Homo sapiens: one gene and its partners. The protein of the gene in region 3 purifies or fractionates together with the protein of the main gene of each other region. This does not show direct contact. Each region holds a gene or a part of one and is shown on either strand. Other genes may lie near its edges. The genes, in order: AAR2, PRPF3, DDX23 and EFTUD2.

What was found.
Region 1: the proteins of DDX23 (region 3) and AAR2 purify together in Homo sapiens (affinity purification with mass spectrometry; 5 studies listed by BioGRID and IntAct, with this or other methods). This does not show direct contact.
Region 2: the proteins of DDX23 (region 3) and PRPF3 purify together in Homo sapiens (affinity purification with mass spectrometry; 4 studies listed by BioGRID and IntAct, with this or other methods). This does not show direct contact.
Region 4: the proteins of DDX23 (region 3) and EFTUD2 purify together in Homo sapiens (affinity purification with mass spectrometry; 8 studies listed by BioGRID and IntAct, with this or other methods). This does not show direct contact.

What each region holds. Positions count from the first base shown.
Region 1 is NC_000020.11:36,232,527-36,239,507, reverse strand, and holds the start of AAR2 (protein AAR2 homolog), read right to left. Parts: upstream 3,031-6,981; 5' UTR 3,005-3,030; exon of another isoform or gene 2,726-3,004; intron 2,627-2,725; exon of another isoform or gene 2,471-2,626; intron 1-2,470. UniProt on the Homo sapiens protein: Component of the U5 snRNP complex that is required for spliceosome assembly and for pre-mRNA splicing.
Region 2 is NC_000001.11:150,324,525-150,331,554, forward strand, and holds part of PRPF3 (U4/U6 small nuclear ribonucleoprotein Prp3), read left to right. Parts: intron 1-370; 5' UTR 371-418; coding exon 419-563; intron 564-1,226; coding exon 1,227-1,357; intron 1,358-3,032; exon of another isoform or gene 3,033-3,128; intron 3,129-3,795; coding exon 3,796-3,942; intron 3,943-5,927; exon of another isoform or gene 5,928-5,974; intron 5,975-7,030. UniProt on the Homo sapiens protein: Plays a role in pre-mRNA splicing as component of the U4/U6-U5 tri-snRNP complex that is involved in spliceosome assembly, and as component of the precatalytic spliceosome (spliceosome B complex).
Region 3 is NC_000012.12:48,849,164-48,856,465, forward strand, and holds the start of DDX23 (probable ATP-dependent RNA helicase DDX23), read right to left. Parts: upstream 3,001-7,302; 5' UTR 2,921-3,000; exon of another isoform or gene 2,887-2,920; intron 2,652-2,886; exon of another isoform or gene 2,558-2,651; intron 1-2,557. UniProt on the Homo sapiens protein: Involved in pre-mRNA splicing and its phosphorylated form (by SRPK2) is required for spliceosomal B complex formation.
Region 4 is NC_000017.11:44,849,418-44,854,445, reverse strand, and holds the end of EFTUD2 (116 kDa U5 small nuclear ribonucleoprotein component), read left to right. Parts: intron 1-89; coding exon 90-177; intron 178-810; coding exon 811-929; intron 930-1,055; coding exon 1,056-1,150; intron 1,151-1,883; coding exon 1,884-2,037; intron 2,038-2,628; coding exon 2,629-2,736; intron 2,737-3,076; coding exon 3,077-3,172; 3' UTR 3,173-4,049; coding exon of another isoform or gene 4,050-4,114; 3' UTR 4,115-4,498; downstream 4,499-5,028. Other genes in the region: HIGD1B (HIG1 domain family member 1B), read right to left, coding at 4,050-4,114. UniProt on the Homo sapiens protein: Required for pre-mRNA splicing as component of the spliceosome, including pre-catalytic, catalytic and post-catalytic spliceosomal complexes. Component of the U5 snRNP and the U4/U6-U5 tri-snRNP complex, a building block of the spliceosome.

The DNA of each region.
Region 1 (6,981 bases), on a different chromosome or scaffold from region 3:
TCCACCGTCCATTCTTAATATCTTCTCAGATCTCTTTCTCACAACAGAGGGTGAGGGTGGAAAATGCCTGGACAGGTCACTCTAAACTATATGCCTACATCATTTAAAACTACAATTCTGCCAAAAAACTATCCCAAAAGATTTGGAAAGATTAAATCAAGTACATATCCAGTTTCCCATAAGCCTCAGGGAAGGCCCAGAAATGGACAGACGGTAGCAAGTGGAGGCTCAGCATCTAAAGTTTGTTCAGGGTCTAGAGAGCTTTCCTACCACAAATCTCCCCTCTTCTTTCACTCATAAAAAACCTAAACTCCAGGGAGTGAAACAACTTCCCAAAGAGCCCACAATCAGTGGTGGCTCTGGACCATTCATCCAGAATGAATTCAGGTGGTAAAGCTAGCCTAGGAAGAGAAAGCTGGCCAGAAGAGAAAGAGCTTAGTACACTTATTTTACCTACTTCTGAATATCCCAGACATTGCCTCTGGGATATCGGCAAGAATGGTACCAACATGAACAAATGTAAACAAACCATTATGCAACCTTCTAGTCCTAAGATACCTACCTGACTAATTTAACAAATACTCACTGAGTGCCTGCATTGTGCCAGGATCTTTGCCAGGCCCCCAAAAAACATCACAGATTAAGACAGTCACTGCCCTCTAGGCAATTCCAATCTAGCCAAGACGTCAAAATTTCACACACAGAAAAACGAGCTGCCTGTTTAATTGTTTACTTTTTTTTTTTTTTTTTTTGAGACAGGGTCTCGCTCTGTCACCCCAGCTGGAGTGCAGTGGCGTGATCTCGGCTCACTACATCGTCCACCTCCCGGGTTCAAGCAATTCTTGTGCCTCAGCCTCCCAAGCAGCTGAGACTACCGGTGTGTGCCACCACACCTGGCTAAGTTTTGTATTTTTAGTACAGAGAGGGTCTCACCATGTGGCCTAGGCTAGTCTGGAACTCCTGACCTCAGTGATCTGCCCGCCTCGGCCTCCCAAAGTGCTGAGATAACAGGTGTGAGCCACCATGCCTGGCCCTGTTTACCCTTTTTACTTTAAATAAAGCAGTGCAGAAAGGAAGACCAATCCTTTTCCAAAAATAAGAGCACATTTTATCATTGTTACCTCAAAACCACCACAAATGACTCTTACCCTGAATCAGCACTTTGTGTTTCACCAAACTGCAAGTCACAATCCATTAGTGGATTAGGAAATCAATGTGAAGGTCTCAACCAGCATTATTTTTTAAACGAAAATAACAGAATTTTTGAAATATCACAATACATCATGAGTAGTAAAGCTAAGTACTGTTTTCTGGAGCTTTGTGTGTTTGTGTGTATACTTGGTTGTGCCATAAAATGTATTCGTTACTGTAGGTCACAGTCATAAAAGTTTGAAAGACTCTGCTCTAAATAATTCGTATCAACAGGCCGGGCGTGGTGGCTCACGCCTGTAATCACAGCACTTTGGGAGGCCGAGGCGGATGGATAATGAGGTCAGGAGTTTGAGACCAGCCTGGCCAATACTGTGAAACCCCATCTCTACTAAAAATACAAAAAAAATTAGCCGCGCATGGTGGTGTGCGCCAGTAGTCCCAGCTACTTGAGAAGCTGAGGCAGAAGAATTGCTTGAACCTGGGAGGCAGAGGTTGCAGTGAGCTGAGATCACACCACTGCACTCCAGCCTGGGGGTCTGAGCGAATTCCGTCTCAAAATAATAATAATAATAATAATAATAATAATAATAATAATAATAATAATACGTATCATCTTCCTATTTGTAATCCTGAATTCAGAAAGTATTTAATATTTGCTGAATGAACAGATATTCCATTTACAATAACAGCTCATCAATTAGCCATTTTCCCTTGTGACATCTGTGTGCTCCTCCTTGATAATGACGTTTCTTTCATGCTAATTCCACCAGTCTGTAATTCTATTCACTATATCTCCAGCAGCTGGCACAGGGCCTAGCACAGAGGAGATGCTAGGAAAACGTTTATTAAATATGCATAGAACTCTGCAGTCTACCAGCCCCTGTCACTGACAGCTCTGTGAGTTCCTCACAGTCCTGGAACACCTAAAGTCACATCCATCCACTTCTCTCCACCACCTCCCTAATCCAAGCTACCATCGTCCCTCACTCAGAGTGCTTGCTCCTCAACCCATTCTCCATTCAACAGCAGTAACCTTTTCAAAATGCCAATCTAATCACAACACCACCCATGTCAGCTTCTGAGTGGTTTCCCATATGGTTCTTGAAAAACCAGAATTCTTCCTATTACCTACAAAGCCTGCACGGTCTGACTCCTGGCAACCCCTTTAGCTTGTGTCACACAATGGTCCCCCACAAGCTCTCTGTTCCAGCCACAACGGCCTCTTTCAGAACCTGAAATTGGAGGCTGTCTCCATATAGAAAACTCTTCCCTCCCCACTTTGTCAAATCCTTTTTTCTGATCTCAGCTCAATATTCACCTCCTCAGTAAAGGTTCCTTGCCCTGGGGCTAGGTCAGGTCTCCTGTGATATAATCTGGGGTGCCTTGTACCTTTCCGTCTCAATGATCACAACTGCAGTTTTGGATGTTTGATTGAAGGCTGTCATCGCCACGAGACTTGAGTCCTGCTGTATCCCTAGCACAGATTCAACGCTTAGTAAACATTTATTTAATACAAGTATGATATCCATTTTGTAAACGAGAAACAAAGCCTCAGTTCGGGGAAAGACCTTACTGGAAGTCACGCAGAGAGTAGGGCAGAGCCAGGTCGAGTGCAATCAGGGTCTCCGGCCCCCAGGCTCTAAAGTTAAGAAAACCGCGACGTAACTCTGGCGACGGCTTCTCAGGAAGGGCCTCCAGAGACACCAGCGTCCCACAAACAGAGAACCAGCCGCCCCGGCGAGGTGGGCCTAGTTCAAGGCACTCCGTGACTCTGAGCCGAGAAGAGGGGCGGCCCAGCCACACATACACAAGGAATCAGGAAAGGAAAAAGAGGCCAGGAGGCCACACTCACCGCCTCGCCCCACGTTCCGGTACAGCGGAAACGCACCGGAAGTTCTCCAGCTTTGGCGTCTGACTGGAGCGACGGGGGAAGCGGTCCGGCAGAGCCCTGGGTCGCGGGAAGAATGGCCCGTGCCTGCAGGTTCCGCCGGATGCAAGGTTGCCTTTTGTTATTCTTAGTTTCTCGTTTTAGCTTCTGAATTGTGAACAACTTTCATTAACCTATGCATTTTATATCCCCGTCCAGAAACACAGCCACCAGCCATCTTACTTTGGGCTCAAGCAGTCATGGTCACTAAAGCACAGCCAAGGCTTGTACCAGTGGCTACTATTCAGAAGTAGCCAGTCAGGCGCTCGGTCACTGTCTTTGTCAGCCAGTCTCTATCCCGGTCACAGTGTCTCAGCTTCCAGTCACACTCAGCCCTCGGGGAGAGCCTCAGAAACCCAGCCACCAGCCCAGAGAGAACCAGCGTCAGCCTCCGCTGCTGCAGCAGCAGCGGTCGCCACCTCAGTCCCTCTGGCCATTATCACCCCGTGTCCTTCCTGCAGGCCAAGTCCTAACATCTCAGTCAGGCTATCAACGCACTAGGGAAGGAATCTGCCTGTCTTGTTCCTCACTGTTTCCCTGGAACCGAGCACAAAGCCAGGCACAAAAGCTCAGCTGAGTACATATATTATGCATTTAATTAATAATGATGATAATTTGGTATTAATAAATAACTATTTGTGGGTCTAACCCTGCACTATTAATCAGGGTTCCACCAAAGATACAGAGCCAGTAGGAGATCTATATTAAGTGATTTATTGCCAAGAATTGGCTTATGTGATTTTAGGGCAGGCCACTTGGGTATTTCTTTTTTTGAGACGCAATCTCACTCTGTCACCCAGGCTGGAGTGCAATGGCGCTATCTCGGCTCACTGCAACCTCCACCTCCTGGGTTCAAGCCATTCTCCTGCCTCAGCCTCCCAAGTAGCTGGGATTACAGGCGCCCACCACCGTGCCTGGCTAATTTTTGTATTTTTAGTAGAGACGGGGTTTCATCTTGTTGGCCAGGCTGGTTTCGAACTCCTGACCTCAGGTGATCTGCCCACCTTGGCCTCTCAAAGTGCTGGGATTACAGGCATGAGCCACCGTGCCCGGCCCACTTGGGTATTTATAATCCTTGCACTAACCCTTGTAAGGTATGTGTATTCCCAATTTGCAGAAGAGAAAACTGAGGTTCAAAGAGATGTTACACAGCCAGAGAATGGCAGAGCTAGAATGCAAACCAAGGGCTGTCTGTTCTTATCTCTTGTGCTGCTGCTCCTTAGCTTGTCTGTCACATTTCCTCAGTGACAGCTGGACACGCCAATCTGTCTCGGTCAAAATTTATCTCTTAGTGGGTTGCAGACTAGACCGGGCCCTGCAGTCATGGTTAATCACAATGAGCTGCTGCAGGATTAACCAGAGACAGCCTCCATCAGTCACAGTCATGCTTACCAATCTCAGCCTGTCCTGTCAAGTTTCATCTCCTGCATGAAGAAGCTCAGCTCCCTCTCCACCCCTCCCCACTCCCAGTCTTAAGTGCTGAGCTCTATGGTCTGGTCTCAAAGCTCCCTGTTTCAGTTGGGCTCACCGTCTTTTCAGAGACTCCAGGACACTGAACACTGGTTGTAGAAGCTGTAAATGGTGGCCTAGGAGTCCCACCTTGTGGGTCACATGTCCATTTAGATCAGAATTTCTCAACCTTGGCACTATTGACATTTGGGGCCAGATAAGTATTTGTTGTATGTGGCTGTCCTGTGCATTGTAGGATGTTTAGCAGCAACCCTGGCGTCTACCCACTAGAGCTAGTAGCACCCCTCAGTTGTGACAACCATTGCTAAATGTCCCCGGGGCGGGGGTTGGGGGTAAAGGAGGAGGGGTCATTTCCCCACTCTCAATGCAGTTGAAAAACACTAATCTGGGTGAACTTACCTTTGATTATTCGACAAAAGCCGAGTCAGGATGGTCCTTTATGGGAGACAGAAATATGGATCAGGGTGTATGGGGTCCTGAGGAATCATATGAAGACCCATTGTTTGTAAACCAAGTCCTATTCCAGAACCCTAGGGATAACAGATTGCTAAAGGAGACCTATAGGGAAAATTCAGAGAAGGATTCATAATGTTCCTCGCAGCAATTGCCTCTGACAAGAGACAGAAATCTGGAGAAGGCTGAAGAATCACTTTTCACTGCATAGTCTTTGTATCATTTAATGAATTACCTTTCCAAAGAAAATAAGTATTTAGTATTTGAAAGTATACGGAAATGCTCAGGATATATATACGTGTATATAGATATATATGTACATATATATACATATATGTACATATATATATTTTAAAGTATTTACAAAAGTATGTACAAGATGACCAACTCTGGAAAAATACATACACATGGAAAAGACTCGCTGGTGAGATTTGCAGCAATAAAGGTGGGCTGAGGTGAGTTGCTTGGTGGAATAAAAGGAAAGTGTGGTGTGTGCACCTCAGGTGGTCCAAGGGATGAGTTTAGGTTTTAAGTGCATTGTGGTTGTTAATTTTAATATTTTTGCATTTATTTTATGAAGACCTCCTTTCTTGGCAAATAACATAAGCTTTTCATTTGTGGAAGTAATATAGTTTCCTTTTTAAATGCATTTGCTTTTAACGTGAGTCAATTTATTTAGTTAGTTATTTTATTTTATTATTTTTTTGAGACGGAGTCTCTCTCTGTCACCCAGGCTGGAGTGCAGTAGCACGATCTCGGCTCACTGCAACCTCCGCCTCCTGGGTTCAAGCGATTCTCCCGCCTCAGCCTCCCGAGTAGCTGGGATTACAGGTGTGCACCACCACACCCGGCTAATTTTTTGTATTTTTAGTAGAGATGGGATTTCACTATGTGGGCCAGGCTGGTCTTGAACTCCTGACCTCAGGTAATCTGCCTGCCTCAGCCTCTCAAAGTGCTGGGATTACAGGCGTGAGCCACTGCACTTGACCTGAGTCAATTTAAAGAAAAATAAGTGAATAATGGGACAGGTGGTATGAGGATATGGGAACATATATAGAGGTTCTGGGCAAAGGCCGAAGTTGAGGATTGCTGTATTTTTTCCCACTAGGCTCCCATGTAGGGGGGTTACAGGAAGAGAGACTCCAATGTAGGTACTCTTCTTTCAGGAGGAGGGACCATGCTGTTTCTCCGCTCAATAAGCCCCTCCACGTCCTGGGGCCTGTATGCTTACTGTTCCCTCTCCTAGAATGTGCACCAAAGTTCCTCGCCTTTGTTGATTGATCCTTCTTTTCATTCAGCTCACAGATCGCCTCCTCAGGGAGGCCTTACCTGGCCACTGTATTTAAAGTGGTCTCCTTCAGTGACCCTCCTTCCCTTCTCCCGGTGTATTTCCTTCCTAGTGCTGAGTGCTCTGTAACGGACTGTTTGCCTGTGTTGGCATCTGTTTCCTCCACTAGCCTGTGGGTTCATGAAGGGCAGGGACTTTTGTCTTGTTTGTGTTGTGCCTGGAGAGTCACCCAAGGCCTGGACCACCTTGAGTTCCAAATATTTGTTGCATAAACATGTTCTAAGTTGGGATGTCTCCACTTCAGTTTTAGCCCCTCCCACAGTGCCAACTTGTACCAGTGGCCAAAGTCAGAGAGAGACAGTGAGAGAGAGAGAGAGAGAGAGAGAGAGAGAGAGAGAGAGGAGAGGTGCCAAGGAAGTATGGTTCAGCATCAAACACATTTATTTCACTTATATTGAGTATACAAGAACAGAGAGCACACGCATACAGCACGGAGCACTGAGGTGGGGGAGCATGGGGACGAGAAAGGAGAGAAGGGTGTGAGTAAAAAGGAACAGGACAGCATCGCAATTGGTTGTTAAGGTGCTTTTGAAAAAAAAAATTATTTCGAGTGATGTTGCTCATGCAGTTTCAGGCCAGTCTTGGAATGTGCTTGCAGGATTCAAAAACTGAAACAGGTCCTGGTACTTCC
Region 2 (7,030 bases), on a different chromosome or scaffold from region 3:
GTACTAACCATTTCCCTGGATCACTTTAGTCTTTTTTTTTTTTGTAGAGAGAGTCTTGCTTTGTCGCCCAGGCTGGAGTGCAGTGGTGCGATTTTGACTTGTTGCAAGCTCTACCTCCCTGGTTATTCCCCTGCCTCAGCCTCCCAAGTAGCTGGGATTACAGGCACATGCCACCACGCCCAGCTAATTTTTTTGTATTTTTAGTAGAGGCAGGGTTTCACCATGTTGGCCAGACTGGTCTCGAACTCTTGACCCCAGGCAGTCCATCCACCTTGGCCTCCCAAAGTGCTGGGATTACAGGCATGAGCCACTGCACCCAGCCCACTTTAGTCTTTTCTTATTCTCTAACTTGTCTCTTTTTTTTTTTTAGGTGTAGTATTGAGTCCTGTTTGAGCTATTGTTCTCTTTTTCCTGAAAAATGGCACTGTCAAAGAGGGAGCTGGATGAGCTGAAACCATGGATAGAGAAGACAGTGAAGAGGGTCCTGGGTTTCTCAGAGCCTACGGTGGTCACAGCAGCATTGAACTGTGTGGGGAAGGGCATGGACAAGAAGAAGGCAGCCGGTATGTACCTTTCTGCATCTTTTATCTTAACATATAGGGTGACCCCAAACACTGCTTTGAACTTCCTCAAAATTCTCTCTGTTGGGAACATCTAAAAAAATGGCAGGCCATATTTTATTTTCACCTGTATTATAGTGAAAATAGGCTAAATAATAATTTGCTTTTTCTCTTAATTGCTTATTTTTTATGTTATTTATGATAGATTTTAAATCTTCGTTTGGCTACCATACTGAGTCACCTAAGTTAGATTTACTTAGGAAGTATGCTTAAGTCAGATAGGCATATTCAGATTCAGACTGAACATCTCAACATACAAAAATCTTTATGAAATACATGAAAAAGCTTGAAGGAGGTAGATTTTGTTAATGGTAGGCTTCTACAACTTGCTATTTGGGAAAGGTGAGGGTGGTTATTCATCTCAAACTTGATGTTCAAGGTAAACAGGTTGCTCTAACTGCACCACTTCCCACGCCAAAAAATTATAACTATTTTCACCTCACAGGGCAAGGTCATTTAGTGTAAGAGAGATGGGAATCCTACAAAAAACTTAAAATTTGTTTCACTCCTGGGAATAAAATTCCAGTGTTGGTACCTGTTATAGGCCTAGTATTAGACTGTGTACTCTTACCTTTCCAACCCTACCACCGCCTTTCTTCCTGTCAGATCATCTGAAACCTTTTCTTGATGATTCTACTCTCCGATTTGTGGACAAACTGTTTGAGGCTGTGGAGGAAGGCCGAAGCTCTAGGCATTCCAAGTCTAGCAGTGACAGGAGCAGAAAACGAGAGCTAAAGGTAGGTTACAATTTACTGTCTAATGAGCTCAGGACTGTTTTGAATGGTAACAGAGTTGCTGAGCTTACCAGTTCACACGTTGATATCCTCTATTTAGAGCAGCAAATGTTCAAGAGAGGTACTTAGACATTAGAGTAGGAGAGATGAATTAGTGTCATCACCATCTGAACTACCTCTAAGTTCATGGGTTGAAATATCCAAAGAAATAATTGGCAGCTTTGTCTTTTTTTAGATAACAGGAGTTTTGATTCTCATGTTTCTCCATATTTCCTTTTTTTCCTTCTTACTGTTACTTATAAACTGATTGCTCTAAGATTTTATCTTTGATTTATTTGAGGCCTAATAAGTTGTTTTAGAATGTGACTCCACTGGTACCTGAGCTGTACACCTCATTGTTGCCTCTTTGTAGAGGTTTCTCTGCAATGCACTTGTAGATAGAATACCAAAAAATAACTATTATTTATTATATTCTTGAGAGCTTACCATTTGCTCTATGGCATATTGCTGGTCCTCTGCTGCCATGAGTGAAACACTTGGAGGAGTTGTCAGTACCCCCTTAACTACTACACTTTTTATTCTGTAGTTGCCGACTGATCCTGGCCTCTTTCAGTATTAGCAGTATCAAGTAGCCTATTTTTCTACTCATTTCCCAGTATCTCTCTTTAGGAGAAAAAAAAAAGTTCTGTGACTCCTATCAAACCTTCCAAAGTTCTTCTGATACCTTGGCTATCCCATTACTTTTCCTGAGGGAAAAGAGTGAATAAGTAATGTCTGCTTGGTCCCCTGGCCAGGCTATGGAACTAAAAAAAAAAGCAGAGAGATTTGTGCCCTTTGTGTTTGGAGCATTGTAGGGTGGTCAGAGAAGGAGAGATAGTCCTTGCCTTAAAACAATTTGTAATTTGTCAGGCAGTGTGGCATGTGCCTGTAATCCTAGCTACTTGGGAAGCTGAGGCAAGAGGATCTCTTGAGCCCAGGAGTTACAATTTAGAAGAGGCAGGGGTATCACAAAATATATATTCACGTATTATAAAATCTAAGTAGCAGTTTCATGTAAATTTTAGGGTTGGTTATAGAATTTCAGACCTATGTTGAATTTTGTTATATTTAAGGTGGAATGATTGATCCACAGTATACACAGATCTGTACAGTGAAGATTATGTCACGATAGGGCATACTTCTTTTTTTTTTTCCTTTTTTTTTTTCTAAGGGTGAGTCTCACTCTGTCGCCCAGGCTGGAGTACAGTAGCGCAATCTTGACTCACTGCAACTTCCACCTCCCAGGTTCAAGTGATTCTCCTGCCTCAGCCTCCTGAGTAGCTGGGATTACAGGCACATGCCACCATGCCTGGCTAATTTTTGTATTTTTAGTAGAGACGGGGTTTCATCATGTTGATCAGGTTGGTCTCGAACTCCTGACCTCAAGATCTGCTCGCCTCGGCCTCCCAAAGTGCTGGAATTACAGGCATGAGCCACTGCGCCTGGCCAGTAGGGCATACTTCTGTATGAGTGCTGAGGGCATGCTGTGAATGAAGTGACTACATTGGGTGGGATTAATAAAAATGGCTTCTTGAAGGAGGTGTCTAGATAGCCTTGGGATACGGGTCCCATTTTTGGTCCATTCAGGTCCCCACCCCACACAATATATTATGGGAGAGTCCTTTTTCTTGAACTGTAGGAGTTCCAGGAAGCGCTCGCCCCTGGCCGAGGATATGTCCTTGCAAAACACGAGCCCTCCTAGTGAAGAGGGGATGTCACCCAAAGCCTACCACCGGTGTGTACATTTGCTTTTTCCCATTGTCCCTTCCAGTTGGCCACTCTCGGTCCTGTTAAATTCACCTTGCAAATTAGTCATCATATTTGAGTTTCCATTGTTTGATGAAAACAAAGTGTTAATGGGGATTACTGAAGAAGAAAGAGAAAGCCCCTGTCCTGGAAGAGCTTAGACTTAGTTGGGAAAACTATACTAACATTGAAATACTTAACACTTGGCAAACAGAATATCAACAATGTAATTTAACCTAATATGAACCAAGCTCTTACACGCTAAGAGAATGTGAAACAAAAGTTTAATCAGAGTGGGATAGGTTATAATGAGGAAAACTTCTTGGAGGAGGTGAGTTTTAGGCAGGATTTGGAACAGGGGTTGTGGAAAAGTTGAGAGAAATCATTATAAATGTGAGCAGTAGCATTTGCAAAGACCTTGAGATGGGAACATTTATAAGAACATGGGAATGAAATTTGTTTGACTGGATTAGGAGAATGTTGAAGTTGGGTGAGATGGAGAGTCTAGTAGACCCTGCTTCTGGCAGGTGGCTATTTGCAAGGTTGTGTCATATTCCCCTGGGAATAGCCAGAAAATGCTGGTAGGGGCTAGGATAATTCTTCCCTTCTCCCCACGGGGAGGGATACAGCTTTTCTTTCATCTTGGGTTCCCTTAGGAGGTGTTTGGTGATGACTCTGAGATCTCTAAAGAATCATCAGGAGTAAAGAAGCGACGAATACCCCGTTTTGAGGAGGTGGAAGAAGAGCCAGAGGTGATCCCTGGGCCTCCATCAGAGAGCCCTGGCATGCTGACTAAGCTCCAGGTTAGTGATTAGGGACTGGAAGCAAAGTGGTTTTGTGAGTTGAAGAAGCAAAAGGTGCATGGGTCTGTATTTATTGTGGAATTTTTTTTTTTTTTTTTTTTTTGAGGTGGAGTTTTGCTCTTGTCACCCAGGCTGGAATACAGTGGCGCGATCTCAGCTCACTGCAACCTCCGCCTCCCGGGTTCAAGCAAATCTCCTGTCTCAGCCTACTGAGTAGCTGGGATTAGAGGCACCCACCACCAAGCCTGGCTAATTTTTGTATTTTTAGTAGAGATGGGGTTTCACCATGTTGGCCAGGCTGGTCTTGAACTCCTGATGTCAGGTGATGCACTCACCTTGGCCTCTCAGAGTGCTAGAATTACAGGAGCGAGCCACTGCGCCCGGCTAATTTTTTGTATTTCTTTTAGTAGAGACAGGGTTTCACCATGTTGGGCAGGCTGGTCTTCAACTTCTGACCTCAGGTCATCTGCCCACCTTCGCCTCCCAGAGTGCTGGGATTATAGGCGTGAGCCAGCGTGCCTCGCCTTATTGTGATCTTGATTTGAATTAGTGTTTAGCATTTGGGGTAAACTTTTTTTTTTGAGATAGAGTTTCACTCTGTTGCCCATGCTGGAGTGTAGTGGCGTGATCTCAGCTCACGGCAACCTCCACCTCCCAGGTTCAAGCGATTCTCCTGCCTAAGCCTCCGGAGTAGCTGGGACTACATGCGAACACCACTACGCCTGGCTAATTTTTGTATTTTTAGTACAGATGGTATTTTGTCATGTTGGCCAGGCTGCTCTGGAACTCCTGGCCTCAAGTGATCTGCCACCTCAGCCGCCCAAATGGCTGGGATTACAGGTGTGAGCCACCATGCCAGGCCAGCATTTGGGAAAATTTTATTTCCTGCTTTATGTTTTAGCGTTCTTTGATTTGACCAGGAGTATTCTAGGTAAGGGTATTGAAATTGCCATTTACTGTGGCAAGCAAAGTGTGTTATGTACATTATTTGCCTAATTACCTATGTCGTTGAGTCATTGAGAAAATTAAATGAAATGATCAGAACTCATCTTAATGACAGAGGAGACTCTCCAAACATAATGCAAAGAAGATATAATCCACTGATAAATAATTTTAAGTTGACTTTATTTTTTTTTAACAGGAAGTATTTGTGTTTTTTCAATTGGCATTGTTAAATAATACCACATAAGTGTTTCTTTTACCATTTAATATTTGAGGGGGGTAATAGAACATATACAGAAATATGGGTGGGTGGATTTGCATATATGTGATATTTACAGAAGGAAAGAAATGGATTTTTTTTGTGTGTGTGTGTGAGATGTTCTCTCTGTCACTCAGGCTGGAGCGCAGTGGTGCGATCTCGGTTCACTGCAGCCTCTGCCTCCCAGGTTCAAGTGATTCTCCTGCCTCAGCCTCCTAAGTAGCTGGGATTATAGGCATGTGCCACCACGCACGGCTAATTTTTGTATTTTTAGTAGAGACAGGGTTTCACCATGTTGACCAGGCTGGTCTGGAACTCCTGACCTCAAGTGATCTGCCTACCTTGGCCTCCCAAATTGCTGGGATTATAGGCGTGAGCCACCGTACCTAGCCTGTTTTTGTTTTTCAGGCAAGGTCTCACTTTTTTGTCCAGGCTGGAGTTCAGTGGCGAGATCTTGGCTTACTGCAACCTCTGCCTCCCGGGCTTGAGTGATCCTCCCACCTTGGCTTCCCAAGTAGCTGGGACTACAGGTCACCATGCCTGGCTGATTTTTGTATTTTTTTTAAAGATTGAGTTCCACCATGTTGCCCAGGCTGGTCTTGAACTCCTGGGCTGAAATGATCCTCCTGCCTCAGCCTCCCAAAGTGCTGGACTTACAGGCGTGAGCTACCACGCCCAGCCAATTATTTTCTTTTTTGGGGGGTGGGGGATGGAGTCTTGCTCTGTCACTTAGGCTGGAGTACGGTGGCGCGTTCTCGGCTCACTGCAACCTCTGCCTCCCGGGTTCACGCCATTCTCCTGCCTCAGCCTCCTGAGTAGCTGGGACTACAGGTATGTACCACCATGCCCGACTAATTTTTTGTATTTTTAGTAGAGATGGGGTTTCACCATGTTAGCCAGGATGGTCTTGATCTCCTGACCTCGTGATCCACCCGCCTCGGCCTCCCAAAGTGCTGGGATTACAGGCATGAGCCACCGTGCCAGGCCCAATGATGTTTTTTATGGAGAATGGGGATGGACGTATTCACAACATATCCTTTTGTTATGTTTCTTTCTTTTTTTTTTTTGAGACGGAGTCTCACTCTGTCGCCCAGAGTGGAGTGTAATGGCGCTATCTCGGCTCACTGCAACCTCCGCCTCCCGGGTTCAAGCTATTCTTCTGCCTCAGTCCCTTGAGTAGCTGGGATTACAGGCACGCGCCACCACGCCTAGCTAATTTTTTTGTATGTTTAGTAGAGACGGGGTTTCACCATGTTGGTCAGGCTGGTCTCGAACTCCTGACCTCGTGATCCGCCCGGCTCGGCCTCCCAAAGTGCTGGGATTACAGACGTGAGCTGCCAGGCCCAGCCTGTAATTTTTCATTTTATTTTATTTTATTTTTTGAGACGGAGTCTCGCTCTTGCACTGTTGCCTAGGCTGGAGTGCAATGCCGTGATCTCAGCTCACTGCAACGTCCGCCTCCTGGGTTCCAGCAGTTCTCCTGCCTCAGCCTCCTGAGTAGCTGAGATTACAGAACGTGCATCACCATGTCCAGCTAATTTTTGTATTTTTAGTAGAGATGGGGTTTCACCCTGTTAGCCAGGATGGTCTCGATCTCCTGACCTCGTGATCCACCTGCCTCAGCCTCCCAAAGTATTGGGATTACAGGCGTGAGCCACCACGCCCAGCCCTGTAATTTTTAATTTTTTTATTTTCTTTCTTTCTTTACTTATTTAGAGATGGAGTCTCCCCCTGTTGTCCAGGCTGGAGTGCAGTGGCATGATCTTGGCTCACTGTAACCTCCACCTTCTGGATTCAAGCGCTTCTCCTGCCTCAGCCTCCTGAGTAGCTGGCATTACAGGCGCCCACCACCACACCCGGCTAATTTTTGTATTTTTACTAGAGACG
Region 3 (7,302 bases):
TTACAGGTGTGAGCCCAACTACACGTTTGTCAGTTAAAAACATATTTGTTTGGCCAGGCCTGGTGGCTCATGCCTGTAGTACCAGCACCTTGGGAGGCCAAGGCGGGAGGATCACTTAAGCCCAGGAGTTCGAGACCAGCCAGGGTAATATAGCAAGACTTCCCGTCTATTTTGAACAATAAAATTTTACATTTATAAACAGTTAAAAATCAGCCGGAGGCCAGGAGCAGTGGCTCACGCCTGTAATCCCAGCACTTTGGGAGGCTGAGATAGGCAGATCATGAGGTCAGGAGTTCGAGACCAGCCTGGCCAACAGGGTGAAACCCCGTCTCTACTAAAAATACAAAAATTAGCCAGGCGTGATGTCAGGCATCTGTAATCCCAGATACTCGGAAGGCTGAGGCAGAACTGCTTGAACCCAGGAGGTGCGGGTTGTTGTGAGCCGAGATAGTGCCACTGCACTAGCCTGGGTGACAGAGCAAGACTCCCTCTGTCTCGAGAGAAAAAAAAAAAAAAATCAGCCAGGTGTGGTGGTTCACACTTGTAATCCTAGCACTTTGGGAGGCTAGGGTGGGTGGAATGCCTGAGCTCAAAAGTGCTCAAGAGCTCATAGGCAGAGGCCTGGGAGGAAAATATCGTCCAGGAACACGGCTTGTGCCCCCAGGAGCCAATACTACCTATGGGGCCCATGCCCCTTCGCTCCTGCCTGGGGAGGATCACCTGAGCCCAGGCTGAGGTGGAAAGACTTCTTGACCCTGGGAAGCACTAATGCAGGAGGAATACTGATTCAGGATGAGTTCAGTGAGCTGGGCAGGAGTCAGATAATGAAAATGTGTTACAGGTCAGAGTAGAGTTAACTTGGATTTTAACTGCAATGGGGATCTTAGAAGAGCTTTAAACAGGAAGCAATCTAATACTTTGGTGACTTGCAAGAAAATATATAGCAGAGAGACAGAGTGAAAACACAACCACTGAGAGTGCTATTATGGTACTCTAGGCAAGAGATGGCAGTGGCTTGTTCTAGGAACGTGGCGATGGAGATGGAAAGAAGTAGGCAGCGTCAGAGTATATTTTGGAGGCAAAGCTAACAGGACTTACTAAGGAAGAAGCAGAAAGAGCAGACACAAAGATAGCTCCTAAATTTATAGTTTCAGCAACCTAATAGTTTGTGGTGCCATAGCAAACAAACTGGAGAAGACTAGGGAACGAACAGATTTAAGAGGAAATCAAACGTTTCATTTTGGCCAGGTTGAGTGTGAGAATATCTGTGGAGATTCCCAGAAGGCAAAGAGAAATGCAAATCTGAACTTAGGGGAGAGGGTCTGTAGACAAAAACTTGAGTCACCAATACACAGATAGCTTTTAAAGCCATGGGACACTAAATGATATTACCTAAGTAGGCAGCATAGTGAAAGAAAAAAAATAGAGAAGAAGCTCCAGAATTGAGCTCTGGAACACTTTAACAGGAGTTAGCCACGGGATGAACCAGAGAAAAAGACTGAAAAGAACTAGCAGCCAGTGAGAAAAGACAAAGAAAAGCATGGCAACGAAGAAGCCAAAAACATGTTTCAAGGAGGGAGGGGTCAACTGTGTCAAGTACCACCGAAGTGGAGAGGGAATAAGGGACAGGGAAGTAACCACTGAATTTGGAAAAATGGAGATTATTGGTGACCTTGACAAGAGCTGTTTCAGTTGCATTGCGGGAATGGAAGCCTGAGTGGAATGAGTTTGGAAGAGAATGAAAAATGAGAAGAAGACAGTAAATACAGGCAACTTTTATTACAGGTTCTATTATCACAAGGGCCAAATAACCAGGCTGACTCTGGCCATGCTTCCCAGCAGCCTTCCTCTCAAACCTCCAGATCTTCAGGTCCTCAGTTCTTGCAGGGCAGGGGCACATTCTTTTTTTTCACTCAATGACGTATTTAACAAGCATCTACTGTACGCAAGGCACAGTGCTAGGTGCTATGTGAGTTACAAAAATAAATTCTGTTCACAGGAAGTGTTTAGAACAACAGGGTTATGAGGTCGGACGCGGTGGCTCACGCATGTAATCCTAACACTTTAAGAGGCCGAGACAGGTGGATTGCCTGAGCTCAGGAGTTCGAGACCAGCCTGGGGAACACGGTGAAACCCCGTCTCTACTAAAAATACAAAAAATTAGCCGGGCGTGGCGGCGTGCGCCTGTAATCACAGCTACTCGGGAGGCTGAGACAGGAGAATCGCTTGAACCCGGGAGGCGGAGGTTGCAGAGAACCAAGATCGTGCCATTGCACTCCAGCCTAGGCGACAGAGCGAGACTCCGTCTCAAAAAAAAAAAGAAAAGAAAAGAAAAAAAAGAACAATAGGGGGTATGAGACACATACCAAGAAGAGTATCAAGGCTCAGATGTAGTAATACAGGTGTTCAAAGGCGTTTCCTTTCACTTGTAAAAGGTGATGTGGAAGGCTTGGAAGAGGAAGTGACGCTTGAGCTTTTAAGTATAAGTAGAATTTTAAGATATGTAATTAAGGACGCGGAAAAGAAGTCATTCCCGGCAAAAGAAATAATACGGCCGGCGCAGAGGCGGGAAAACATGGACTGACTGCGAGAGAAAAGCCAGAGTTCCAGTTTGGCTGCACCAAAGGCTACTTTAAGCATGAAAGAATAAGGTCAGACTGGGGGTATCAGAGGCGCTGTGCCCATAGGCAGAGTCCTGGGAGGAAAATATCGTGCAGGGACGTGGCCTGTGCCCGGAGGAGCCAACACTACCCCTGGGGCCCGCGCCCCTTCACTCCAGCCCGCCCGAGCTTCCCGGGTTCATGCCCCTTCTCTGAGGCGTTCTTTCCCGCCTCATCCAGGAGGCAGGGGCCACCGCCGTGCCCTGACTCTAGCCCTTTCTGTAAGCTCGTGGGAACCGCCTCCACCGCCCGGGACTCACCACCCTGAGTCTGAACCGCCCAACGCGGCCTCAACGTCGCGGAGCCGTCGCCATCTTTCCCGTTTCCTGGTCGCGGAGATGAACACCCCCCACCCCCCCGGCCGCGAGGCAAGCTGGGAAGGCGAGTTCCTGGAGCTGGGCGGCACAGGCCGACACTGAGGCCTGGAAACTACCAATCCCAGAATGCATGACTTGAGCGCCGGCCCCAGGCTGCGGGGTCTGCCGGGCAATGTGGTTTGCCAGACGTTAGCGTCCGGGAAGGAAGAGTTTTTCGCCAATAGGCTTTCGGCATTAGGTTCTCCCGCCGAGCACCCTTCTTGGAATCGGCTGGTCTTCCTAGAAACTACGGTCTATGACTGTCCTTGCCCGTGGCTTACAGTGGAGGAATTTAAGGGCTTCCTGAGATATCTGTAGTACGTAATTATAGCTAACAACCGCAGTAACAATAAATACCATTCGTGGAAAAGCGGTTTTTATAATAATTCTGTGAGAATGGGGCTAGCCCCATTTTACAGTTGGACAAACTAAAGATCAGGTTACCGGAGTAGGTTCACAAGGAGGGTGATGCAGTTCTCCATTGTGTGTGGAACTATCCCAGGCTTAGGAGGACGTTTTAGCAACCTTGGCCCCTGCAGCCGGGTGAATGCCATAACAACCCCCAGTTATTGTTACAGCTCCAAATGAGCCCACACAATGGGCTCTAAAGTCCTCCCGGAAGGATGGTATCTCCTGGGCTCTAGCACCTGTTTTCTCAACATTCCAGATGGAACCCTGGTTTCCTCAATTTCTTGCCCTTTGGAATGTGACCAATTGTTGAGCTATCTTGGTATTTTTGCTTCTTTCTTCCCCCAGATTCCCCTACTTCAGTCTTCCACTGAGTTTTGTTGTTGCTGTTGTTGTTGTTGTTGATGTTGTTGTTGTTGTTTTAACCTCAAATCGTAAGTTCACTTTGTGTTTCTCTTTGGTCTTATGGGTTCATAACTCTTTCCCTCAAAACAAAACAAAACATTGCAGTTGCGGAAACGGTTTAGATAACCAGAAGTATCTCGGACCTCCCTTCCCATTTTGCCAGCAGCAGGTTTGTTGCTTCAATTCCACATGGCTGTAGGTCTGCCTTTTCTCTCTGAATATGCCCAAGCTCTCAAGCAGAGCCTCAGGATAGACCCAAGTAATCCTAAAGCCCTGAGCATCACGTACAATGGCCCAAAGTAACCCTCGGAGACACACACTTCTCTTAGAACCTGCAGCCTTTCACCTCCCAGCTTCTACTCCAGAGAGAACGCAAGGGAAAGAAGAGAGCTCTGAGATCTGTTAGGTGTAATTCACCACAAAAGCACGAGAGGGCGCTCGACTCACAGATTCACAGATTAAACTAAGAATCAGACCAACCATGGTAGGCCAGAATCTTCAAAAACTGCAGCCACTTTTTATTGAGAATCTTCTAAGTGCTCAGCTCTGGGCTGGACACTTAACCTACCTTATTTGTTTTACTTAGTTCTCATAGCAGTATGAGATGAGTGCTATCTCCATTTTACTGGTAAGGAGATTGTGGCCCAGAAAGAGTAATTATGCCTTCAAAGGCCACATAGTTAAAAGAATGGGCCAGGTGAGGTGGCTCATGCTTGTATCTCAGCACTTTGGGAGGCCAAGACAGGAGGACTGCTTGAGCCCAGGAGGTCGAGGTCGCAGTGAGCCATGCTCGTGCCACTGCACTACAGCCTGGGTGACAGAGCAAAACCCTGACTGGAAAAAAAAAAAAAAGAAAGAAAGAAAAAAGAAAAGAAAAGAATGGAGCCAAAATTCAGGTTCATTTAACTTCAGAGTCCATTACCTTTCCCCATTTTCAGGCTGCCATCTCAACTCTCTTTAAATTGAGCTCCTGGAGGGTGATAAAGCTTGTCCCAGTTCATAGTGGCAGAGTTCCTCTAGTACTTGTGCGCACATCTCATGACACATGTAAGACATTGGGCTTCAAGGATACTTGTTATTTGTCTTGCCCCACTAGTTCTCTCACAAACATGAATCTTTGTTTTCTTATTTGTTTGTATTTTTATTTTATTTTATTTATTTATTTATTTTTGAGATGGAGTCTCGCTCTGTCGCCAAGCTGGAGTGCAGTGGTGCAATCTCGGCTCACTGCAATCTCCACCTCCCTGGTTCAAGCGATTCTCCTGCTTCAACCTCCCAAGTAGCTGGGATTACAGGCACATGCCACCACACCCAGCTAATTTTTGTATTTTCAGTAGGAACGGGGTTTCATCATGTTGGCCAGGATGGTCTCGATCTCCTGACCTCGTGATCCACCTGCCTCGGCCTCCCAAAGTGCTGGGATTACAGGCGTGAGACTCCACACCTGGCTTATTTACTTATTTATTTTTGAGACCGGGTTTCACTTTGTTGCCCAGGTTGAAGTGGAGTGGCACAAACAGCTCACTGCAGCCCTGACCTGGGCTCAAGTGATCCTCCTGCCTCAGCCTCCCAAGTAGCTGGGACCACAGGTGCACCCCATCATGCCTGGCTAATCGTTTTACTTTCTGTAGAGACAGGGTCTTGCAATGTTGTCCAGTTTGGTCTCAAACTCCTGGCCTCAAGCAATCCGCCCGGCTCGTCCTCCCAAAGTGCTAGAACTACAGGCACCAGTCACCACACCTAAACCATCATCTTTGGAGACAGAGACAGAGGGATGGTGTTCTAGTAAGAACCATAACTGGAGATACCTATTTAGGTACAACATGCCTACCAGTAAGGGGTCCATGGGATTTTGGTGAACAGTGAGTTCTGGTTTGAATCTTGGCTCAATTGCTTACTAGTACTGTGATCTTGTGCAAATTATATGGCATCTCTGGCTTTTCTCTTTCCTCATTACAAAACAGAGATAATAATACCACTTCCCTCACAGGACAGGACAGCAGAGCAAGTTAGAGTGCATGATGTGAAGCCAGATTGCCTGGATTTGTATCCATGTTCAACCACTTCCTAGCTGTGTGACCTTGTGCACGTTACCTAATCTCTCTGAACCTCGGTCTTCTTTTCTGTAAAATGAAGTAGATAGCGGCGGGGCGCCGTGGCTGACACCTGTAATCCCAGCACTTTGGGAGGCCAAGGTGGGTGGATCACCTGAGGTCGGGAGTTCGAAACCAGCCTGACCAACATGGAGAAACCTCGTCTCTACTAAAAAAACAAACAAACAAACAAACAAAAACAGAATTAGCCGGGCATGGTAGCACATGCCTGTAGTCCCTTGGGAGGCTGAGGCAGGAGAATCACTTGAACCCAGGAGGCAGAGGTTGCGGTGAGCCAAGATCGTGCCATTGCACTCCAGCCAGAGTGAAACTCCGTCTAAAAAAAAAAAAATAGCACCTCATAGGCTCATAGGGTTATCACAGGAATAAATAACATAGAAAGAACTCGTAAGTGGGGCCGGGCACCATGGTTTATGCCTGTAATCCCAGCACTTTGGAAGGCCGAGGCAGGAGGATCACTTGAGCCCAGAAGTTCAAGACCAGCCTGGGCAACATGGTGAAACCCCATCTCCACAAAAAATAGACTACTACTGTGGTACTCCTGTAGTCCTAGCTACCCAGGAGGCTGAGGTAGGAGGGTCAGGAGGGTGATCAGGACGGTGAACCAGGAGGGTGAGGTTGCAGTGAGCAGTGGTCATGCCACTGTACTCCAGCGTGGGCGACAGAGTGAGACCCTGTCTCAAAAAAAAAAAAAGAAAAATCTCGTAAGTGCCCCGACCCATAGTAAACATTTAACAAATGTTAGCTCTTATCATTTATGAGTCTAAATGTGATCATGTAAAGCCCTCAACACAGTGCACAGTGCTGAACACTCATTAAGTACATGCTAACTTTATTTATTTATTTATTTATTTAGAGATGGAGTCTCCCTCTTTTGCCCAGGTTGGAGTGCAGTGGCGCAATCTTGGCTCACTGCAACCTCTGCCTCCCGGGTTTAAGCGATTCTCCTGCCTCAGCCTCCCGAGTAGTTGGGATTACAGGCACGTGCCACCATGCCCGGCTAATTTTTGTATTTTAGTAGAGATGGGGTTTCACCGTGTTAGCCAGGATGGTCTCGATCTCCCGACCTTGTGATCCACCTGCCTCAGCCTCCCAAAGTTCTGGGATTACAGGCTTGAGCCACCGCGCCTGGCCTAGTACATGCTAACTTTATTTCTGGCACTAGCACTACACTATGGCACTTGGAAAACAAGAGCTATAAGTCACTGAGAAAGGAAGTTAAGAGTTAAGGCCCCTGAGCTGCCATCAGTAGGCATCGGAATTGGAAGGTCATGAAGGCAAATGTCACCTCTCCTTGAACTCAGAGGAGACCAGAATCCCAGGAGCCTCCCCCAGCTTTGGCTTAGTCTGTCCACCTTC
Region 4 (5,028 bases), on a different chromosome or scaffold from region 3:
ATCCCCTTACAGGCACATCTGTCTTCTCCCTCTAAATGCTTCAGCCGTTGCCAGGGCGACTGCTAAGGAGGCCTCATGTTTCTCTATAGGTGGACAAGGCTCTTCTTGGTTCAGTGAAGGACAGCATCGTTCAAGGTTTCCAGTGGGGAACCAGGGAGGGCCCCCTCTGTGATGAATGTAAGTCCACCAGCACTCCCCCACCCCAGTCCTCGAGGGTCCTTGCAGCCAGGCATATGAGTGGGATGGGCTCACCATCTTTAGGATTCGGCAGGAGAAGCAGCTTGGGGTACACAGGACCATCCCAAGTCCTGGGCCAGCTTCTTCCCTTTTCCTTCCTTATCCTGGTGGTGTAGCCTGGAAATGGAAATTTAAGTCATTTCTAAACTGTCATTTGCTCCTCATTTCTGAGAAGGGTTTGGCGTTGGACGTATTTGAGAAGAGATATCAAGAGGATGATGAGATTGGAATGGTTTATAGACCCTGATTGGGCTTCATGGACCAAATGTACAATTCTGGAATTTATTCTACATCCACAAAAATGTAAATATGTGCAGAAGAAGGAAATAAACTTCTAGGAAAGCTCTAAGTCTGAGCATGGCCTGAAGCAAACACTAAGAACATATGCTTAACTTCTGACCTCTGCCATGGGCCTTGCTTATTCAGTTAGAACGCCCACCTCCCATTTGATTTCTGTACCATGTCTTTCATGACTGCAAGACAGCTGCAGTGTTGCAGGAGACTGCTACTCTGCCATGGCCCCATGACAGGCCCAGAACCTCTCCCCAGTCACTCCCTCCACCTCCTTTACAGTGATTCGGAATGTCAAGTTTAAGATCCTGGATGCGGTGGTTGCCCAGGAGCCCCTGCACCGGGGCGGGGGCCAGATCATCCCCACAGCCAGGAGAGTCGTCTACTCTGCCTTCCTCATGGTAAGAGAATGGGGCGGTAGGGGACCATCTGCTTCACTGGACAGGGGACTAAGTGAAGGAGCAAGTGGGACTATAGGCCCCCAGCCTTCCCCAAGCTGAGGGGCCTTTCTTCTTGCTCTGCTGCAGGCTACTCCTCGTCTGATGGAGCCTTACTACTTTGTAGAGGTCCAGGCCCCTGCAGATTGCGTCTCTGCAGTTTATACCGTCCTGGCCAGGCGCAGGTGAGCGGCCCCAGGCGTATTAGGGAGAGTGCTGAGAGCAAGAGCAGAACAAGAGTCACCTCGGCTCCTACAGGGAAGAGAGGTTGGCCTTCTCTACCCTCCTCTCTCTGGAAACCCCGAGAGCTGATTTTCCAGAAAGAAGTAGGAGCGGAGGGAGGCAAGCCCCCGCTTTTCTGCAGATTAAAATTTGACATTTCTCCATCCTGGCTAACACAGTGAAACCCCGTCTCTACTAAAAATACAAAAAATTAGCTGGGCGTGGTGGCGGGTGCCTGTAGTCCCAGCTACTTGGGAGGCTGAGTCAGGAGAATGGCGTGAACCCAGGAGGCGGAGCTTGCAGTGAGCCGAGATGGCGCCACTGCATTCCAGCCTGGGCGACAGAGCAAGGCTCTGTCTCAAAAAAAAAAAATTGACATTTCTTTTGGGATCCCCTCCTCACAGAGCTGTTGGAGGCAGTGCTGAGGCAAGTCAGTGATGGGAATGTCTTTGGGCCCTTGTCCCTTCACCATCCCACTCCTGTCCTCTGCCCAGAGGTTGCTGCCACTTTGACTTCCACAGGGAATTATACTGAGAGCCCTGAGCCTTTTCTGCTTTTTGTAGAACATTCTTGGTTACTCTTTCTTTGATGGTAACTCTGGGCTGGAATGCATTTGGGGGACAGCAAATGCTGGATTGCTTCTTGGCTTTTGGCCTATGTTTGACTAGAGGCTCAGCCTTTGTTTTTCTGTCTCAGGGGGCACGTGACTCAGGATGCACCCATCCCAGGCTCCCCTCTGTACACCATCAAAGCTTTTATCCCGGCCATCGACTCTTTTGGCTTTGAGACTGATCTCCGGACTCACACCCAGGGACAAGCCTTTTCTCTGTCTGTCTTCCACCACTGGCAGGTGAGAAAGCAATGCAGGCTGGCGGACTTGGCTTCCCACCTCTGCAAGCCTCATCCCCTTCTGTCCTGATCCCTCTCCAAGCCCTAAGTGAGGTGTACAGCATCCTGGAGAAGAGTCCTCCTCTGGGGAGCATATATTCAGGGCAACTTGAATCTGTGTCTCTCAGTTTAAAAAAAAAAAAAGAAATAATAGGGCCGGCTATGGTGGTTCACACCTGTAATCCCAGCACTTTGGGAGGCTGAGGCGGGCAGGTCACCTGAGGTCAGGAGTTCGAGACCAGCTTGACCAACATGCAGAAACCCCATCTGTACTAAAAATATAAAATTAGCTAGGCGTGGTGGTGCATGCCTGTAATCCCAGCTACTTGGGAGGCTGAGGTAGGAGAATCGCTTGAACCCGGGAGGCGGAGGTTGCATTGAGCCGAGATCATGCCATTGTACTCCAGCCTGGGAGACAAGAGCGAAACTCCATCTCAAAAAAATAATAATAAGTAATAAATTTAGGAATAAAATAAATAAGAAGAGTCCTGCTTCTGGGCCTGAATCTTCTGGGAATTCTGCCTGGGCCATCTGAAATTCCTTTGCCTTTTAGATTGTGCCTGGTGATCCCCTGGACAAGAGCATTGTCATCCGCCCCTTGGAGCCACAGCCAGCTCCTCACCTGGCCCGGGAATTCATGATCAAAACCCGCCGTAGGAAGGTATGTCTCCCTTGGGCCTGTTGCCATCCCTCAACCCCCCAGGACTCTCAGAAGCAGGATCTCTCTCTCTTTCTTTTGGCCCCTTTTCCTAAGGGACACTTTTCCAATGTAGAGATATGATCTGTATACTCCTTAGGCAACCAAACCTGGGCCCCAGTCTCGTTGGGAAAGGAGAGCCTTATCCTCCCATGTGATAGTACCCTAAAGGCAGGGCTCCTGAAACACCACCACCTACATTCCAGCCACCACTAGCCTCCCCACTGAACACAGGTCTTGGATAGTCTCCTTGCTTAGTCTGCGACCACCTCGGGCTTTCTTATATTTGCCCCATTCCCTGCAGGGCCTCAGTGAAGATGTGAGCATCAGCAAATTCTTCGATGATCCTATGTTGCTGGAACTTGCCAAACAGGATGTTGTGCTCAATTACCCCATGTGAGTGCGTGGACTCCTGGGAGCTCCTGCTCCCTACAGTGGGCTGCAACTCCTGTACTTGAAGCTGAGACCTCATATGACGTGGCCTTCGTGTTGTCAGAGAGTGTCTGGAAGCTGCTGTTGCCATCTTGAACAACTCACCAACCTCCAACCCAGAGCCCCAGTGAGAGAGGAGCATTTGGCCTCCTGCTTCCTTCTGTGGCCTCTGCCGGGCTCCATTCCCAAGGAAAAGAGAGGAGCTTGGGCTCACAGAAAGAGAAGGGGATGAAACCCCAAGGGGCCCTATCTTTGGGATTTACATGGAATTTTATTTTCTACAAGTTTGACCTTAGCCATGGTTTGCAAGTGAACAGAACATTCTGACCTCTGTCTTGCTCTGCTCCTTTCATCCTCGTCTCCCCTGCCCCGTCTGGTGCTTACATTCTGAATATATGTCATCTCCCAAGAGGCTTCACTGCCTCTGCTTCCAGCTGCAGCCTCCTTCCTGCCTGGGTCCCCAGGGAAGCCGCCTGCCTTTTAATTCAGTGTTCCCATGAGCGCCAAGGCCCCATTATTGCCCCCTTGCTCCCACTCCATGCTGCTTCTGGGTGGAACCTAAGATGGCTTGGGAGTTGTTGGGTTCCTGCGATCAGAAGTCTACCCCACCACCTCCTCAGGAAACTGCTGCCTCCCCTAAGAATCTTCCTTGCCCTGGAGTAGGGGGCCAGAGCACTTTGATTTCCAGCCATTTACTCCAAGTCCTCTCCCCAGCTACCACCAGTCCCTTACTCTGTTCTCCCCCAGTGAAAAAGAGTCTGTTGATTTTCCTCAAAACTGCTTTATTAGGAATGTACCAGGGATTGAGTTAGGGGAGTTGGACAGCCCCGGCTCCTATAGGAGTCCTACTTCTCTCCAGCATCCTGTGCCATCCTCTTGACGTAATCGCTGTACATTGTGTACACAGCACCTGTGTGAGAGAAAAGAAATAATGCCCCTTGGCATCAAACCCTTCACCCGTCCTCTGGCTCTCAGGCGTCCTAGGGGTTCACCTCTAGCTGCTCCCTTGAGAGTCCAGCTTCCCGCTCATCTTTCTGCCCCAGGTCCCAACAGCTGCTTCAAGCATCTGACCACACAACCTGGGGAAACCACTTATCTGACAGTTCACGAAACACTTTCACATGTATTGTGTATCTGAGAAACCTCACAGCAGCCTGCAAGGTAGGCAGGCCAGGGGTGGTTATTGTCATGTTACACATCAGGAAACTGAGGCTCAGTGAGAAAGATTTGTCCACTGTCACACAGTTAGCAAGTGGCTGTCTGCTTTTTAATCTCAAGAGGAAGAGAAATTCAACATCTGTTCTGTTGCATGATTTTTCTCACCCCTAGGGCAAACTGTCATGAGACACTGTCCCCACAGGCCTGGGACAGGAGCCTAAACAGGGAAGATGGCTCAGTATAGGGGCTTCACCAAGCATGTGATGTGGAGCCCAGAACAGGAGAACTTAATTCACAGTCCTTTTTTTTTTTTTTTTTTTTTTTTGAGACAGAGTCTCACTCTGTCACCCGGGCTGGAGTGCAGTGGCGGATCTCAGCCCACTGTAGCCTCCGCCTCCCAGGTTCAAGCAATTCTCCTGCCGAAGCCTCCAGAGTAGCTGGGACTAAAGGCACCTGCCGCCACGCCCAGCTAATTTTTGTATTTTTAGTAGATATGGGGTTTCACCATGTTGGCCAGGATGGTCTCTCTCTCCAGACCTCATGATCTGCCCGCCTTGGCCTCCCAAAGTGTTGAGATTACAGGCGTGAACCACCGCGCCCAGCCAAGCACAGTCCTTTTAATTGTTGGGACTTAAAGACCTACAAACTGCATAATCGGTTTTGCCC